2 separate regions of the Homo sapiens genome follow, and region 1 is linked to region 2. Evidence: fine-mapped expression QTL. A gene starts in region 2. The other region holds a variant in brackets. All regions are shown on one strand. Distances are between the middles of the regions.

Evidence for each region. PIP is the estimated chance that this variant, and not a neighbour inherited with it, causes the effect. A credible set is the group of variants that fine-mapping cannot tell apart.
Region 1: its variant is the best candidate, but not a certain one, in a credible set for the expression of NECTIN4 in skin (TwinsUK, PIP 0.75).

The regions. Positions count from the first base shown.
Region 1 is chr1:160,688,814-160,698,833 of GRCh38, forward strand. The region is part of intron 1 of CD48 (CD48 molecule); the gene reads right to left. It overlaps LOC124904439 (endogenous retrovirus group K member 18 Env polyprotein), which reads left to right. Exons shown (of 1, transcript XM_047438433.1): 1 at 1-10,020. The coding sequence starts at 8,515. Among named protein-coding and RNA genes, the nearest start is that of CD48, 18 kb to the right of the region's middle. The variant G/A (reference allele first, on the strand shown) is at 4,314.
Region 2 is chr1:161,084,622-161,094,425 of GRCh38, forward strand. NECTIN4 (nectin cell adhesion molecule 4) reads right to left here and starts at 4,937. Exons shown (of 9, transcript NM_030916.3): 1 at 4,597-4,937. The coding sequence starts at 4,675. It overlaps NECTIN4-AS1 (NECTIN4 antisense RNA 1), which reads left to right. Exons shown (of 4, transcript NR_183641.1): 2 at 31-191; 3 at 316-407; 4 at 2,282-6,111. RefSeq lists an enhancer at 8,155-8,254.

The DNA of each region.
Region 1 (10,020 bases), 400 kb before region 2:
TTCTCGTTCTCCTGATAAGAAATAAAATAATTAGCCTCCAGGAATTCCCTTCCACTAGAGGAGCAATTATTTTTTAAATAGCCCTTTGGTGCCCAGTCTATTACTAAACCATATGAGTCATTTTTTAATATTACTGCATGTGAGTTAACACAATCATCCTAAATTAAAGTTTTAGATGGGCCCTCAAAATTTTTAGGGCATGGTTTTCCTGCAGGTTTATATTGAAAGTATGGGGTATCTCCCATTACTTCTCCTTTCATTTGTTTTAAAGGAGAAAGGGAGAGGCCAGAGACTAAATGTCCTATTTTATCTGTAGCTGATGTTTTCGGAAGATAAGCAGCCTAGAATTGAGTTTCTAGGTGGATGCAACCAGGTGCATGTCCGAGGCACAGAGGGGGGTATTTATAATCTATGGTAACATTAAATGCAGTGCCTTCTTCTCCTGGTTGAGCAGGGCAACGGTCATCTGTGGCTCTAGGCATCTACACACTATCATTAGTGTAGATTTCTGCAGGAGCATCTATCTAGGTGAGAGGTCGAATAAGTGGAGGAAAAGGCACATAAGCCTAATAAGAATAATTATGTGTAGCAGGTAAATCAGTGTGAGAGGAAACTGGTGAGACAGAAAGTATAAGGAGGAGAATCATTAAATAAAACCTAGTGTAAGTGAGATTGAGTGCTGAAGGAGGAAGAGAAGAACAGAGGGATGTTATTTTCAGGCTAATAGAAATGGTGAGATTTTTAGGTTTGTAAGGAGAAAAAGAAAAGTAATCAGGAGAAGTGGGATTAGTTAGATGGGTCTCCACTGCCATCAGGGAGGATTGATTTACACCTATTGTGATTTGGTGTGCCTGTTTCTGAGGAGTCAGCAGAGATCTCACCACGTCTGAAGGCAATCTCTGACACAGATGTTTTTTGTCTGTGGTTTTAGTTGTCAGTATTCACCTGAAGCTTGAGTCTTCTGGTGGGTACCTAGACATGGGATTGATGATCTCCTGGTGAAACACAAGCATATCCTCTTCCCTACGTTATAATTGTGCCAGGTTCCTAGGTATTGGTTTGAGAGTTTTTCCATAACACTGACTTGCCTTCGTTTATGGAAAATTTTTTGCCTGTATAATGGCGTTTGGCTGCAGTTACAGTATTATCTTTAGGAACATTTAAAAAATTTAAAGTAAATAATGCCAAATGTAATTGGGAGTGTGGAGTAGTTAAATCATGTTTTGGTTGTTCAGACTGTTTGGACAATTGGGTTTTTAAAGTGCGATTGGCCTGTTCCACCACAGCCTGTCCTTGAGGATTGTAAGGGATTCTAGTAATATGGGAAATTCCTTACTGTTGTATAAATGAATCAAAAGCCTTACTAACATATCCAGGGGCATTGTCTGTCTTTATTTGATATGGAAGCCCCATAACTGCAAAGCAAGAATACAGATGTTTTTAAAAATGGGCCGTGCCTTCCCCTGTTTGTCAAGTAGCCCAGATAAAACCTGAGAAGGTATCTACTGAGACATGCACATATGACAGTCTGCCAAAGGAGCTAACATGAGTCACATCCATTTGCCATCAAGCATTAGGAGTTAGGCCTCTAGGCTTAACACCAGGTTCCTGATTTGGAAGTACGAAGACCTGGCACTGAGGGCAGCTGTGAACAATAAACTTAGCCTGTTTCTAGGTAAGAGCAAATTTATCTTTTAAGCCAGTGGCATTGACATGAGTGAGATTATGGAACTCCTGAGCTTCTTGGGTCATTAAAGACACCAAACAGTCAACTTCATGGTTACCAGCAGACATGGGTCCTGGTAAAGTGGTATGAGACCTAATATGTGTAATATAGGAAGGGTGTCTACACTGGTGAACCACCTGTTGTAACCTTGAAAATAAAGAAGCCAATTCAGAATTATCAATATGTTTGATAGTAGCAGTTTCTATATTTTTAGTGGCATGTACAACATAAGCGGAATCTGAGACTGTGGGGAAAAGCAAGAGAGGTCAGATTGTTACTGTGTCTGTATAGAAAGAAGTAGACATAGGAGACTCCATTTTGTTCTGTACTAAGAAAAATTATTCTGCCTTGAGATGCTGTTAATCTATGACCTTACCCCCAACCCCGTGCTCTCTGAAACATGTGCTGTGTCAAACTCAGGGTTAAATGGATTAAGGGCGGTGCAAGATGTGCTTTGTTAAACAGATGCTTGAAGGCAGCATGCTCATTAAGAGTCATCACCACTCCCTAATCTCAAGTACCCAGGGACACAAAAACTGCGGAAGCCTGCAGGGGCCTCTGCCTAGGAAAGCCAGGTATTGTCCAAGGTTTCTCCCCATGTGATAGTCTGAAATATGGCCTCGTGGGAAGGGAAAGACCTGACCGTCCCCCAGCCCGACACCCGTAAAGGGTCTGTGCTGAGGAGGATTAGTATAAGAGGAAAGCATGTCTCTTGCAGTTGAGACAAGAGGAAGGCATCTGTTTCCCGCCCATCCCTGGGCAATGGAATGTCTCGGTATAAAACCCGATTGTACGTTCCACCTACTGAGATAGGGAGAAACCACCTTAGGGCTGGAGGTGGGACATGCAGGCAGCAATACTGCTTTGTAAAGCATTGAGATGTTTATGTGTATGCATATCTAAAAGCACAGCATTTAATCCTTTACCTTGTCTATGATGCAAAGACCTTTGTTCACGTGTTTGTCTGCTCACCCTCTCCCCACTATTGTCTTGTGACCCTGACACATCTCCCTCTCGGAGAAACACCCACGAATGATCAATAAATACTAAGGGGACTCAGAGGCTGGTGGGATCCTCCATATGCTGAACGTTGGTTCCCCGGGCCCCCTTATTTCTTTCTCTATACTTTGTCTCTGTGTCTTTTTCTTTTCCAAGTCTCTCATTGCACCTTACGAGAAACACCCACAGGTGTGGAGGGGCAACCCACCCCTTCATCTGGTGCCCAACGTGGAGGCTTTTCTCTGGGGTGAAGGTACACTCGAGCGTGGTCATTGAGGACAAGTCGACAAGAGATCCCGAGTACATCTACAGTCAGCCTTACGGTAAGCTTGTGCACTCGGAAGAAGCTAGGGTGACAATGGGGCAAACTAAAACTAAAAGTAAATATGCCTCTTATCTTAGCTTCATTAAAATTCTTTTAAAAAGAGGGGGAGTTAGAGTATCCACCAAAAATCTAATCAAGCTATTTCAAACAACAGAACAATTTTGCCCATGGTTTCCAGAACAAGGAAATTTAGATCTAGAAGATTGGAAAAGAATTGGTAAGGAACTAAAACAAGCAGGTAGGAAGGGTAATATCATTCCACTTACAGTATGGAATGATTGGCCCATTATTAAAGCAGCTTTAGAACCATTTCAAACAGAAGATAGCGTTTCAGTTTCTGATGCCCCTGGAAGCTGTATAATAGATTGTAATGAAAAGACAAGGAAAAAATCCCAGAAGGAAACGGAAACTTTACATTGCGAATATGTAGCAGAGCCGTTAATGGCTCAGTCAACGCAAAATGTTGACTATAATCAATTACAGGAGGTGATATATCCTGAAACATTAAAATTAGAAGGAAAAGGTCCAGAATTAGTGGGGCCATTAGAGTCTAAACCACGAGGGCCAAGTCCTCTTTCAGCAGGTCAGGTGACCGTAACATTACAACCTCAAGCGCAGGTTAGAGAAAATAAGACCCAACTGCCAGTAGCTTATCAATACTGGCCACCGGCCGAACTTCAGTATCGGCCACCCCCAGAAAGTCAGTATGGATATCTAGGAATGCCCCCAGCACCACAGGGCAGGGAGCCATACCCTCAGCCGCCCACTAGGAGACAATCCTATGGCACCACCTAGTAGACAGGGTAGTGAATTACATGAAATTATTGAGAAGTCAAGAAAGGAAGGAGATACTGAGGCGTGGCAATTCCCAGTAACGTTAGAACCGATGCCACCTGGAGAAGGAGCCCAAGAGGGAGAGCCTCTCACAGTTGAGGCCAGATACAAGTCTTTTTAGATAAAAATGCTAAAAGATATGAAAGAGGGAGTAAAACAGTATGGACCCAACTCCCCTTATATGAGGACATTATTAGATTCCATTGCTCATGGACATAGACTCATTCCTTATGATTGGGAGATTCTGGCAAAATCATCTCTCTCACCCTCTCAATTTTTACAATTTAAGACTTGGTGAATTGATGGGGCACAAGAACAGGTCCGAAGAAATAGGGCTGCCAATCCTCCAGTTAACATAGATGCAGATCAACTATTAGGAACAGGTCAAAATTGGAGCACTATTAGTCAACAAGCATTAATGCAAAATGA[G/A]GCCATTGAGCAAGTTAGAGCTATCTGCCTTAGAGCCTGGGAAAAAATCCAAGACCCAGGAAGCGCCTGCTCCACATTTAATACAGTAAGACAAGGTTCAAAAGAGCCCTACCCTGATTTTGTGGCAAGGCTCCAAGATGTTGCTCAAAAGTCAATTGCCAGTGAAAAAGCCCGTAAGGTCATAGTGGAGTTGATGGCATACGAAAACGCCAATCCTGAGTGTCAATCAGCCATTAAGCCATTAAAAGGAAAGGTTCCCGCAGGATCAGATGTAATCTCAGAGTATGTAAAAGCCCGTGATGGAATTGGAGGAGCTACGCATAAAGCTATGCTTATGGCCCAAGCAATAACAGGAGTTGTTTTAGGAGGACAAGTTAGAACATTTGGAGGAAAATGTTATAATTGTGGTCAAATTGGTCATTTAAAAAAGAATTGCCCAGTCTTAAATAAACAGAATATAACTATTCAAGCTACTACAACAACAGGTAGAGAGCCACCTGACTTATGTCCAAGATGTAAAAAAGGAAAACATTGGGCTAGTCAATGTCATTCTAAATTTGATAAAAATGGGCAATCATTGTCGGGAAACTACCAAAAGGGCTAGTCAATGTCGTTCCAAATTTGATAAAAATGGGCAACCATTGTCGGGAAACTAGCAAAGGGGCCAGCCTCAGGCCCTGCAACAAACTGGGGCATTCCCAATTCAGCCCTTTGTTCCTCAGGGTTTTCAGGGACAACAACCCCCACTGTCCCAAGTACCTCAGGGAATAAGCCAGTTACCACAGTACAACAATTGTCCCCCGCCACAAGTGGCAGTGCAGCAGTAGATTTATGTACTATACAAGCAGTCTCTCTGCTTCCAGGGGAGCCCCCACAAAAAATCCCCACAGGAGTATATGGCCCGCTGCCTGAGGAGACTGTAGGACTAATCTTGGGAAGATCACGTCTAAATCTAAAAGGAGTTCAAATTCATACTGGTGTGGTTGATTCAGACTATAAAGGTGAAATTCAATTGGTTATTAGCTCTTCAATTCCTTGGAGTGCCAGTCCAGGAGACAGGATTGCTCGATTATTACTCCTGCCATATATTAAGGTTGGAAATAGTGAAATAAAAAGAACAGGAGGGTTTGGAAGCACTGATCCGACAGGAAAGGCTGCATATTGGGCAAGTCAGGTCTCAGAGAACAGACCTGTGTGTAAGGCCGTTATTCAAGGAAAACAGCTTGAAGGATTGGTAGACACTGGAGCAGATGTCTCTATCATTGCTTTAAATCAGTGGCCAAAAAATTGGCCTAAACAAAAGACTGTTACAGGACTTGTCGGCATAGTCACAGCCTCAGAAGTGTATCAGAGTACTGAGATTTTACATTGCTTAGGGCCACATAATCAAGAAAGTACTGTTCAGCCAATGATCACTTCAATTCCTCTTAATCTGTGGGGTCGAGATTTGTTACAACAATGGGGTGCGGAAATCACCATGACCGCTACATTATATAGCCCCATGAGTCAAAAAATCATGACCAAGATGGGATATATACCAGGAAAGGGACTAGGAAAAAATGAAGATGGCATTAAAGTTCCAATTGAGGCTAAAATAAATCACGGAAGAGAAGGAACAGGGTATCCTTTTTAGGGGTGACCACTGTAGAGCCTCCTAAACCCATACCGTTAACTTGGAAAACAGAAAAACTGGTGTGGGTAAATCAGTGGCCGCTACCAAAACAAAAACTGGAGGCTTTACATTTATTAGCAAATGAACAGTTAGAAAAGGGACATATTGAGCCTTCATTCTCGCCTTGGAATTCTCCTGTGTTTGTAATTCAGAAGAAATCCAGCAAATGGCGTATGTTAACTGACTTAAGGGCTGTAAATGCCGTAATTCAACCCATGGGGCCTCTCCAACCTGGGTTGCCCTCTCCAGCCATGATCCCAAAAGATTGGCCTTTAATTATAATTGATCTAAAGGACTGCTTTTTTACCATCCCTCTGGCAGAGCAGGATTGTGAAAAATTTGCCTTTACTATACCAGCCATAAATAATAAAGAACCAGCCACCAGGTTTCAGTGGAAAGTGTTACCTCAGGGAATGCTTAATAGTCCAACTATTTGTCAGACTTTTGTAGGTCGAGCTCTTCAACCAGTTAGAGACAAGTTTTCAGACTGTTATATTATTCATTATTTTGATGATATTTTATGTGCTGCAGAAACGAAAGATAAATTAATTGACTGTTATACATTTCTGCAAGCAGAGGTTGCCAATGCAGGACTGGCAATAGCATCTGATAAGATCCAAACCTCTACTCCTTTTCATTATTTAGGGATGCAGATAGAAAATAGAAAAATTAAGCCACAAAAAATAGAAATAAGAAAAGACACATTAAAAACACTAAATGATTTTCAAAAATTGCTGGGAGATATTAATTGGATTCGGCCAACTCTAGGCATTCCTACTTATGCCATGTCAAATTTGTTCTCTATCTTAAGAGGAGACTCAGACTTAAATAGTAAAAGAATGTTAACCCCAGAGGCAACAAAAGAAATTAAATTAGTGGAAGAAAAAATTCAGTCAGCGCAAATAAATAGAATAGATCCCTTAGCCCCACTCCAACTTTTGATTTTTGCCACTGCACATTCTCCAACAGGCATCATTATTCAAAATACTGATCTTGTGGAGTGGTCATTCCTTCCTCACAGTACAGTTAAGACTTTTACATTGTACTTGGATCAAATAGCTACTTTAATTGGTCCGACAAGATTACGAATAATAAAATTATGTGGAAATGACCCAGACAAAATAGTTGTCCCTTTAACCAAGGAACAAGTTAGACAAGCCTTTATCAATTCTGGTGCATGGCAGATTGGTCTTGCTAATTTTGTGGGAATTATTGATAATCATTACCCAAAAACAAAAATCTTCCAGTTCTTAAAATTGACTACTTGGATTCTACCTAAAATTACCAGATGTGAACCTTTAGAAAATGCTCTAACAGTATTTACTGATGGTTCCAGCAATGGAAAAGTGGCTTACACAGGGCCAAAAGAACGAGTAATCAAAACTCCATATCAATCGGCTCAAAGAGCAGAGTTGGTTGCAGTCATTACAGTGTTACAAGATTTTGATCAACCTATCAATATTATATCAGATTCTGCATATGTAGTACAGGCTACAAGGGATGTTGAGACAGCTCTAATTAAATATAGCATGGACGATCAGTTAAACCAGCTATTCAATTTATTACAACAAACTGTAAGAAAAAGAAACTTCCCATTTTATATTACTCATATTCGAGCACACACTAATTTACCAGGGCCTTTGACTAAAGCAAATGAACAAGCTGACTTACTGGTATCATCTGCATTCATAAAAGCACAAGAACTTCATGCTTTGACTCATGTAAATGCAGCAGGATTAAAAAACAAATTTGATGTCACATAGAAACAGGCAAAAGATATTGTACAACATTGCACCCAGTGTCAAGTCTTAGACCTGCCCACTCAAGAGGCAGGAGTTAACCCAGAGGTCTGTGTCCTAATGCATTATGGCAAATGGATGTCACGCATGTACCTTCATTTGGAAGATTATCATATGTCATGTAACAGTTGATACTTATTCACATTTCATGTGGGCAACTTGCCAAACAGGAGAAAGTACTTCCCATGTTAAAAAACATTTATTGTCTTGTTTTGCTGTAATGGGAGTTCCAGAAAAAATCAAAACTGACAATGGACCAGGATATTGTAGTAAAGCTTTCCAAAAATTCTTAAGTCAGTGGAAAATTTCACATACAACAGGAATTCCTTATAATTCCCAAGGACAGGCCATAGTTGAAAGAACTAATAGAACACTCAAAACTCAATTAGTTAAACAAAAAGAAGGGGGAGACAGTAAGGAGTGTACCACTCCTCAGATGCAACTTAATCTAGCACTCTATACTTTAAATTTTTTAAACATTTATAGAAATCAGACTACTACTTCTGCAGAACATCTTACTGGTAAAAAGAACAGCCCACATGAAGGAAAACTAATTTAGTGGAAAGATAATTAAAATAAGACATGGGAAATAGGGAAGCTGATAACGTGGGGGAGAGGTTTTGCTTGTGTTTCACCAGGAGAAAATCAGCTTCCTGTTTGGATACCCACTAGACATTTGAAGTTCTACAATGAACCCATCAGAGATGCAAAGAAAAGCGCCTCCACGGAGATGGTAACACCAGTCACATGGATGGATAATCCTATAGAAGTATATGTTAATGATAGTGTATGGGTACCTGGCCCCACAGATGATCGCTGCCCTGCCAAACCTGAGGAAGAAGGGATGATGATAAATATTTCCATTGGGTATCATTATCCTCCTATTTGCCTAGGGAGAGCACCAGGATGTTTAATGCCTGCAGTCCAAAATTGGTTGGTAGAAGTACCTACTGTCAGTCCTAACAGTAGATTCACTTATCACATGGTAAGCGGGATGTCACTCAGGCCACGGGTAAATTATTTACAAGACTTTTCTTATCAAAGATCATTAAAATTTAGACCTAAAGGGAAAACTTGCCCCAAGGAAATTCCTAAAGGATCAAAGAATACAGAAGTTTTAGTTTGGGAAGAATGTGTGGCCAATAGTGTGGTGATATTACAAAACAATGAATTCGAAACTATTATAGATTGGGCACCTCGAGGTCAATTCTACCACAATTGCTCAGGACAAACTCAGTCGTGTCCAAGTGCACAAGTGAGTCCAGCTGTTGATAGCGACTTAACAGAAAGTCTAGACAAACATAAGCATAAAAAATTACAGTCTTTCTACCTTTGGGAATGGGAAGAAAAAGGAATCTCTACCCCAAGACCAAAAATAATAAGTCCTGTTTCTGGTCCTGAACATCCAGAATTGTGGAGGCTTACTGTGGCCTCACACCACATTAGAATTTGGTCTGGAAATCAAACTTTAGAAACAAGATATCGTAAGCCATTTTATACTATCGACCTAAATTCCATTCTAACGGTTCCTTTACAAAGTTGCATAAAGCCCCCTTATATGCTAGTTGTAGGAAATATAGTTATTAAACCAGCCTCCCAAACTATAACCTGTGAAAATTGTAGATTGTTTACTTGCATTGATTCAACTTTTAATTGGCAGCACCGTATTCTGCTGGTGAGAGCAAGAGAAGGCATGTGGATCCCTGTGTCCACGGACCGACCGTGGGAGGCCTCGCCATCCATCCATATTTTGACTGAAATATTAAAAGGCATTTTAAATAGATCCAAAAGATTCATTTTTACTTTAATTGCAGTGATTATGGGATTAATTGCAGTCACAGCTACGGCTGCTGTGGCAGGAGTTGCATTGCACTCTTCTGTTCAGTCAGTAAACTTTGTTAATTATTGGCAAAAGAATTCTACAAGATTGTGGAATTCACAATCTAGTATTGATCAAAAATTGGCAAGTCAAATTAATGATCTTAGACAAACTGTCATTTGGATGGGAGACAGGCTCATGACCTTAGAACATCATTTCCAGTTACAGTGTGACTGGAATACGTCAGATTTTTGTATTACACCCCAAATTTATAATGAGTCTGAGCATCACTGGGACATGGTTAGACGCCATCTACAGGGAAGAGAAGATAATCTCACTTTAGACATTTCCAAATTAAAAGAACAAATTTTCGAAGCATCAAAAGCCCATTTAAATTTGGTGCCAGGAACTGAGGCA
Region 2 (9,804 bases):
ACAAATGTTCCCTCTCCCCTTGCTCCTCAGGTTCCTACTAAAAGGACTGCCAACCTTCTCACCACTACCCCCAGCCACTCCCCTGGGCCCCTCAGCAGCTCTGGCCCCCCAAGGAGGCCTCTCCCTGGGAATCTCTGTCAGGGCTCTGCTGCTGCCACCACCAGAAAAACCAGCTCTGGCTCCAGGCCTGGGTAAGGGTTGTCTGGTGTGGGTTTGGGGGGGTGAGGGGAATCCTGCCTGGGGCTAGGGGGAGGGGTCCAGGCTGTCTAGGGTCTCATGCTCCTTTGTTAACTCCTGCCTCCCCTTACCTGACAGCAACAATCTCCACCGAGAGCTGGAGTATGTGGGTGAGTCTGGGGTGAGAAAGGACCTAGGAGGGACGCACCGAAGCTCACCATCCAGGACAGGTGACACAAACAACCCAGCAAACCCCTTTCCATCCACTCTTTGCCCCATAACCTTGGCCTTGGAGTGCTAAGGAACTTTAAAAACCAGAAGATTCCCTCTCCGCCTTCATCCACCTCCCTCACTTACCCCCCATTGTACTAAGCCCCCCAGCTTAGTGAGAGCTTCCCAGCCTGGGCAAAACGCCCACCCACAGATTAGTGTCTGGGGAGGGGGGCCACACAATCACAAAGGGAGATGAGAACAATGGGGAGGACAGGCCTTGAGGCAGCCCCACTCTGGCCCAGACACAGCTCCCAGCACAGATAAGTCCCCTAAACCCCCCGGAGCCAGAGTCTGAGCCTGGCTGAGTCACCACAACAGCCACACTGTGGGTGGGAGAACCAGGATTCAGCTTCTCCCAAACTCCTGAGATCCTAACCCCTGCTCCACACTGCCCCTCCACCCACCATGGCCAGCTCTGCCCCATCCCAAATCACAGCCTCAACTCCAGCTCTCAGGACACACCAGATTTAGAGGGAAGGGGGTGGGGGTGGCCAGAAAACTATGAGAAAATCTCCTGAGGCCAGAGGCTGCCTGTTCCAGTGAAAGAGTGACCTCAGCCGCCTTCTCCACGGCCTTCCTTTAGGAGGCATGGCAGATGTCTCCCCAGTTCTGAACTTCGCCTCCTCTTTTTTTTTTTTTTTTTTTGACACAGAGTCTCACTCTGTCACCCAGGCTAGAGTGTAGTGGCGCGATCATGGCTCACTGCAACTTCAGTCTCCTTGGATTCAGGCAATCCTCCCAAGTAGCTGGGACCACAGGTATACTACCATGCCTGGCTAACTTTTGTATTTTTTGTAGAGACGGGATTTTGCCGTGTTGCCCAGGCTGGTCTCAAACTCCTGGCCTCAAGGGATTCACCTGCCTTGGCCTCCCAAAGTGCTGGGATTATAGGCGTGAGCCACCACGCCTGGCCCCCTCCTCATTTAGATTCTCTTCCCAAATTAAGACCCTAGGCTTCTCTACTCCCTTCCCTTCTGACTTCGTTCCCCACATCACCTCCATCCCTTCTCTCTGCCTAGACTTCGGTCAGAGCAAGGGCAAGTTTTTGGAGGCTAGAACATCCAATCATTCTCTCCTCACTGGGCCCCAAAGTAGCTAATCCCCATTCACTTTGCCTAGAGGACCCCCAGATCCTGAGGCTCTGGTCTGGCTGATGGAATCATGAACTCTAACCTCCTCATCTCTGTAGCTAGGCTCTCCTTGGCCCGGCCTCCTTAAACACTAGGGTGGGAACAAGGTCACTGGGGTCACAGGGCTTCCCTGGGATTCTCCCAGTTCTCACCACCTCCCTTGCTGGCTTCCCTGGGTTTGGGTAGGTCCTACAGGAAAGGGCCTGCCCCCCTCTGTAAACAGGAGTAGAAAAGTAAGGATGGGCCCCTCCCTTTCAAGGAAATTAACCTCAGACAGAAAGCTGATCCTAACCCCCAGAAGGCAGACCTCAGAATGCAGAGCACCACTTGCCCTTTGGTCCTGCAGGGCTCCTGAACCCGACAAAGAGCTAGGGACTAGGATCCTAATGGGGGGAGGGGTGTCTCGTGGATTTGGGTCCCTCAGCCCCAGGGCAAGAGATGGGGGAGGGAGAAGGGAGGAGACTTCACCCGGAAACTCAACCCATTAAGGAGAGACAAAGAGCTGTGGTGCTGAGGCGCCTCCCAAGCCTGGGCTCCTTTCCCTGTCAGGGGTGGGGCAGGGCCCTGGGGCTCAGAGCTCTAATGGCCCAGGATTTGGGTGGGGGGTGAATTTGCAGTAGGGCCAGGAAGGCCTGGGGAAAGGTACTCTGGTACCCTCTGAGAGATGCGACCAGAACGCTTTCCTCCTCCTATCTCCACAGCCAGACCCAGTGACCCTTCCAACACCCCAGCACCCCACTTCAGCCAGGCCTGGACCATCACAGAGTCATCGTATTTCAGAGCTGGAAGGTCAATAGAGATCATCTGGTCCTAGCTCTCGGTCTACTGAAGTCTGGTTTCATCGCTGCCCAAGGTTACCAAATAGATTAATAGCAGAAACGGGATCTGGACCAAGACTCCTGACTTCCCAGTCCAAGGATTTTTTCAGAGACATGAAACATTCCAGGTTCCTGGGAGCCATTAAGGAGAGTCTACACACAGAAGAGCCAGAATGGGGGTGGTAGTGGAGGTAGGACCATCTGATCCTCAGGCTAGGAGCCTCCAGCCCCCAGAGCAACCTCAGCTCTGTGCAGGTTGTAGCTGCTGCAGCAGCAGCAGAGTGGCCTCCTACCAGGTGCCAGCTTCCTGGGGCAATCTGGAGCCAGGCTTCCTCCCTTACTGCCAGGCATTGCATGAGGTCTAACTAGAAGGGGGTCTCCTGTCCCCTTCCCTGGGCTTCTCTTAGTAAGAACAGTTTTGCCATCATGGAAAAGAAAGGCAAGAACCATGTGATGCAGTCACCATTGCATCTCCAGCATCTAGTATCCAGGTTGTACCCAGTGTGCACTCAAATGTACTATTCTTCAATGAACTTAGAGTGAGAACACCAAGACACTAACCCTGGTTATGCTTCTAACACTGAGCAGAGGTAATCAGGGATTCCAGCCATAGTGACCGGGCCTGGGGGCTGGGAGGGAACATGAAAGGGAAGGGCTACACTGGCTCTTCTGGGGGTACTGCTGGAAGCTGGGGGTGGGAGAGAGAGATTGGCTCCTCAGTTCAGAGTCATAGGAAAGAGATGTTTGTGTGTGTGCGTGTGTGTCTACTCCTAACGTTGAGTAATCTTGCAGATCTCACTTGCCTATCTCTCTCAGTTTTTTCATCTGTAAAATGAGAGAGTTGGAGTGGTGATCTCTTTGATCTCTTCCAAGTCCTGAGATGGCATGACTCCACTCTTTAAGTGTGGGTAGATCCCACAGGAAAGTGACTGCTGGTTCCCCAACTCCAGCAACTAGGCTCCACCTTTTTGGCCTAAACAAGTGAGAAGGATTATCTGGAAGATGGGAATTAAAACACAGGTGGTAGGGGACTGTGAGGGGATGGCAGGGGTAGGAGCTCAGTATCCTACGACTGGAGGCTGGGCCCATGACCTATAATAAAATCAGAGTTGGAGCAGCCCATACCTCCACCAATCCACACATCTAGGCCTTATTTCCCTCCTCAAAGCTTTGGCTGGAGATGGAGGTAGGGGAATCACTGCCAGATCTTGCTGGGCAACAGAGGCTCCCTTGCTACTGCTCCTGGGCCTGAGAATCAAACTGTCCTGTCCAGATCAGGCCCTATCTTTTGAAGGAGAAATATTTCTGTTACTCATTACCCTAGGAACACCCTATGGAATCCCACTGAGGTCTCACTGTGCACACACACGCACACACACTCTCCTCTACTCTGAAGATTATACATTCCTATAATTCATATTTGCTCTATATGCATTAGACAGACAGGAGGTGAGAAGTAATACAAGGCATCTAGTTAAGAAAATGGGGGAACAGGAGATGAACAAATGGGGACCACACCCTATCTAGAAGGTTCCCTTCCTTAGACCCCCATCCATCTAAACCCCCTTATTACCACCCTGGCACCTAATATTGTGCCCAGGGAAAGGAAGGGGTCAGAGTGACGGGCATTCTCAGCTCTCCTATAGTCCCCAACAGGTGCCCCAGTCCTGGTGCTCTAGAACATCATGGAGAGAAAAGAAGGAAATAGAAATCCCCCATCCACTCTCTGGGCATCAGGCTTCCTGCACCCTGATGACTGCAGAAACCAGCTGAGCTCTGAGTCAGCCCCAGTTCCAGGCAGCCGTTCCAGAGCCCAGGGGGTAGGCCAAGGCACCTCTAGGAAACCCTGGGGTGAACAGGATCCTCACAAGTCCCACCTGCCTGCCCATCTACACTGGGTCACCACGTCTATTCCCCAAGACAGCTCAGGCCTAGGCAAGGCTTTGGCAGAGGTGTCAGGGATCCCAGACATAGTGACCTGGCCTGGGGGCTGGGAGGAAACAAGAAGGGGGAGGGCTATACTGGCTTTTCTGGGGGCACTGCTGGAAGCTGGGGGCAGGAGAGACTGGATCCTCAGTTCAGAGTCAAAGAAAGGAGGATATGTGTGTGCGTGCGTGTGTGTCTATGTGTTTGTGCATGTGTGTCAGTGCCAGGTTGGGCTCAGAAGCAAGTGTCCTGATGGTTCAGGCAAGTCCTACCTGTAAATGATGCCAGCAGTAGCAGCAGCAGCAGCCAGGCCTCAGGCCCCCACATCTCGGCTCCCAGGGACAGGGGCATGGTTGAAAGGCAGACTGCCCAGCGTTTCTGAAGTTCCACCGAGATCTCCCTGGGAGCCGGCTGCAGACTTGAATAAGGAACTGACCCAGAAGGCAGGAAGCTGCAGAGTTCTTGCCTCTCGCACTTGGGTCTCCACTAGGGGACCCAGCCCCAGCCCCGGCCCCGTTCTACACACCCAGCCGTAGCTACCCCCAAGAAGCCGTGATCGGGAGCTCCGAGCTCCCCCAGAGCTGCTTCCCACGCTGTGGCCAACAACGACGGCAGAAACCTGGGAACCTGCTCAGCAGGTCAGAACAGGTGCGTCTCTGGGGGCTGGGCCTGGCACGGAGACTCAGCAGCCACCGCCCCCATGGCCTGGGCTAGCTAATAGGCGCCAGGGAGGGAGGGAAGGAGGGAAGGACCTGGGTGGGGGCGGTGGGGTCCCATCCTCAGCTCCAGGCTTTACCTGCGAGTATGTGGAAGGGGCTATGAAGGGAGAGGCAAGGGTGGGGACTAAGGGAGGCCCAGGGCACCAGGCCAGGCCAGGATGAAAGGGGCAAGGCCCTTGTGGGTAGAAAGGAACCCAAGCGTCCCACACCCCAGCTAGCCTTGGTACCTCCTGGGGGCCTTGACAAGTTCCCGGATCTCCTGGAGGGTCTCAGCTTTGGAGCCACAGAATCGGAGAAGGCCAGAACTGAGGAGGAAGGAGTCTGTCAGTGCTGCGCTGTATACTTCATTCTTCAGAAGAGAAAACCAAGGCCCAGAGAAGGGGAGGGACTTGCCAGAGGACACACAACTTAGTCTCATGGTTTGCTCAGACACCTCTATCCCTGAAGTAGGGAAGTAGTTCAAAGACCCCTGAGAAAGAACTTACGTAACTCCTCTAACTCCACCTCCATATATAAGAGGCCAAGGAAGTGGCCAAGGAATTAGCCGTAGGGGTTCCTGGTTTCCCTATCAGGGCCCTCTCTCAGCTTCAACACCTTGTTACCTGGCCAGGAGTCCCAAAAGCGCAGCAGCACAACTTGAATGGAGAGAGGTTCCTCTCTACCCTCTCCATGGCCATTTTACCCAGTTTACTCCAAGGTCATTGGACAAGACCACATGTCTGGACTTTGCAAGGAGAATCTTAATTTCAAGTACTCTAGCCCTGTATTCCTATAAGTACATCCTTGTCAGACCATGTGTTTCCATTCTGAATGCATAAAAAGTGACCGCCAAATTACACAAAACCTTCCTGGCCTCCCTGGGATAGCCAGAGGAAGAGGGCATATTCTGAGCCCACTGAAAATTTAGTGAACGGGAGGGACAACATCACTTGCAGTCTAGGGCTAATACAAAAACCAGGTAAATACAGAGATAGACGTGGGAGAAGAAAAAAATATAGGTTAAAGTTTTGCCATAGGACCCTTCCATCTGGAGAAGGCAGAAAGGAGGAATAAAGAAGCCATAAGGAAGAGTTGTTCTGTGTAGATTTTCTACCACCACCATCCCCACCAACTCTACCTGTCAAACTCTTATTCATCTTTCAAAGCTGACCTCAAATGCCACATCTTCGTGAAGCCTTCTCTGCTCCTCCCACCCCAAATTAATCTTTCTTCTATTCTTCCTCAGCCTTTGCTAGTCCTTTTATTATAGCTTATGTGCTCATAATTTGTGCACATCTTATCTCCTTAACTAAATTGTAAGCTTCAAGTCAAAAAAACATCGATTGAGGCCTGCTGTGTGCCAGGAATTCAGTAAATGTATTAAATTGCGGGACAGGACAAGAGTTGTAGCCTGTGAACTCCTTGAAAGTTGGGCTTGTTTTATAATCTTGTCTCAGTCTTCCATGCTAGGACAGGCCACAGCATTTCATGGGAACTGACTACATTTTGGTGAAGCCATGAATTTCTGAATAAATGAGTTGTCCGGATGAAAAGGATGGTGAAGTCGGATCAGTAAAGCAGAGATCCCGACTGGCTGTGAGTTACTATCCTGAACTAGGGTTGTGACCTGGACTTTACTCCTGTCACTGGACTATGACCCCAACTCTGGCTCTAGATGCCAAATGACCACGGCAGTGACCTCTTCTTCAGGGGCTATTTCCTGCAGGTCAGAGGCCCTTAAAGGCCAGGCCGGTTGCCAGAATTCCCCAGTTTCTCTCCACCTCCAACCCCTTCTCTTTTTCAGGTCCCCACCTGTGCCAGGGGAACAGCCCCACCCAGATGCTGCTTTGAGATCCTCTGTGGCAGGGGTGGAGTAGGGCCAGCGGGAATGGGAGGGGGAGCATCCTGTGTTATAATTATAATTATCACACCTTGGATCCTATCGCATGCTTTCGGAGGAGCTGCTTTCCTTCCCACGGATTCACCCCTCCAGGTACAGGAAGCCACAGGAGAAACTGAGGCACAGGAGTGGAAAAGCAGTTAGTTCACAAGATGGATATCCAATCTCCTTCAGCCTATCCATTCACAGTATACCCCGTGAAAGTGCTACCAGTCAGGATGTCTCTGAACCCCTGGTTGGGCCCCTTAATCACTCACCCTGAACTCTAGCCATACGGAGCATGGAAAGGAGGCAGAACTGTCCAGAGGTGGAGTTAGGGTATGGCTATACTCATTTTTTCATGGGTATGATGCAGCCTTGAAGTAGGCTAAGGGCACCACAGGGCCTGAGAGGGAGCACTAGAGTCCAGCAGCCCACTCCAGGCCTTTGACAGAGTTAGGGATCTCTCTCCTCATTTCACAAATACCTATCTCAAGTCCCTCTGTCCCCTCCTTCCCCTCAGCCCTGTATGTCTCACAAGAGCCATGCTTTTGGAGAATATGCCCTCAAACTTAGGCCTTTCCTACCCTCTCCTAGGATGAAGGCTGGGGAAGGCATATTCTAGGATTGAGACTGGAAGGAAATATTGGATGAGGAAGATTTTCAAGACCAATGCCTGGTATCCTGGTTCGGTTCTCCCTTCCATATTGAATTCCCATTCCCCACATGCCTCACTCCTACCCTCCTCCTACCCACATTGTGGTCGCTAAGAATGAGAACAATTCAAGCCATGATAGTGTCTTTATCATGTGTGTTTGTCTGAGTGACATTGCTGCGTGCGCGCCTGCACCCATGCATTCCTTCAACAGACATTAAATGAGTGCCACTATGTGTCAGGCTCAAGGGAGGAGACCGAGACACATAACACATAGTCCCTGCCCTCAAGGAGCCTTCAATCAGGAGAGGCAGACACAGAAACAACTGTAACATGCTATATCCCACCATCATGTGTTCCCTACGTATCTCTGTACACATACATGCTATGCACATATGTGGGACTGTCTCTGTATGCACAGCAGCGGATGTTCTTCATGATCTGCATGCATCCAAGCATCCGCTTATACCTGTCTCTGTCCCCATGACAGGCTGCACGCCTCAGCCAAACCGGTTGGAGTGGGTTGTGCTGAAATTTTTGTTTGTGTCAATGGGACTTGAGGTGAGTCAGAGAGGGACAAGGATGGGTGGGGTGGTGTGGGGGAGAAGAAGAGTGAGAGTGAGGGTCAGATTGAGTGGGGGAGGGAAGGAGTGGGCCCAGGTTGGAAGGGGTGGGAGTGAGAGTGGGGTGCAGGAGGATGAGTTGGGGGTAGGAGTAGATGAGAGAGCTCCTTGGTGAGTAATATCCTGTCTGCCTGCAGTGAAGTCCCAGGTCAGAGAAGAGTCAGAGGCTGGGGGAGAGTCCCTTGTGCTTAGGGAGAGAGGAGGGTGAAAAATAAATCAGAGTGGAACTAGTTGGAAGCATGAGAGTGGATAAAATATTTGTGATCCATTTCTGTACAGCTTTGTCTCTGTGATAAGCTATTCCTGATCTGCTCATTGCAAACTTTCCGCAGTTTGTACAGAAAGGTGTTGGGGAGCTGATGACGTGGTGAAAGATTACCAATATGGGCCTTGATCTCACCCCCCAGGACCAAGGCTTCAAAGTCACTCCTCCTGCTCCTCCCTAGGATCACCCCTGCTCCATCCCGGGAGGTATGGGCATACCCCCATACAGAACACAGGGGCTCCAGCAGCTTTTCTTCCCCTAGAAAACACCTTTACTCCCCTCCTGATGGAACTTCACTATGCTCAATATTAGGATGGTGGCCTCCTGTTTTCTAGAAAATTACATCAAAACATTGCCATGTGCTATGTTGTTCTTTGCCTATCCTGCAGGCCCACCGATTCCCCAATACCCAGCCCCCAGCCCCATCCTTTAATGATAACCACATTTCTTGGTTGCCTAACAACCCTTGGAGATCAGGGGGCTGAATTTGCTTGTTCCTCGAGGGCCCTAAAGCTGGAGTGTGCCATCCAGGGGAGGAGGCAGCTAAATGCAAGACATGTTCAGGTCCCGTTTCTCGGTAGGTCCAGTTGTGTGCAGAGCCCCATCCTCCTTGCTCTCAACCCATGAACTTCGCAAGTTTCCATGAACACACTACCATGAAATCCAGGACCACAGTATGGGTTAAGGGACAAATATCTTTATTTTGACACTAAGACCCCACTGTGGGGAAATTCTACTCCCTGAAAAGGCCCTATGTATTGAAGCTCACTCAGGTCTTCATCAAAAATTGAGACCTTATGACTGTGCCCGGGGACCCCAAACTGGTGCTATAGTTCTAGAAAGCAGCCAAAGGGAAGAAGTCTGGCCACTTCTGGAAAGTTCTAAAGCTCCTTGCAGGAAAGTCAGATGGCTGGCTCTGGTCAGCAGGAAAAAAAGGGCAGTAACCCAGAGAGAAAAACACAAAAGTCGAAACAGTGAGAGACAGATCTCAAGGCACAGTGAGAAAAATGGAAACTTAAAGACAGAAAAATATACAAATGCTCCTTGACTTTTATGATGGGGTTATGTCCTGATAAGCCCATTGCAAACTGAACATATAAGTTGAAAATGCATTTAATATACCAGTCGCTAGCCCTAGAAAATATCAAAATTTAAAATTCAAGTATGGGTCCTACCGAACACGCTATCATTTTTGCATCACTGTAGTTTAAAAATTATAAGTTGGGTTGGGCATGGTGGCTCACACCTGTAATCCCAGCACTTTGGGAGGCTGAGGTGGGCGGATCATGAGGTCAAGAGATCGAGACCATCCTGGCCAACATGGTGAAACCCCGTCTCTACTAAAAACTCAAAAAATTAG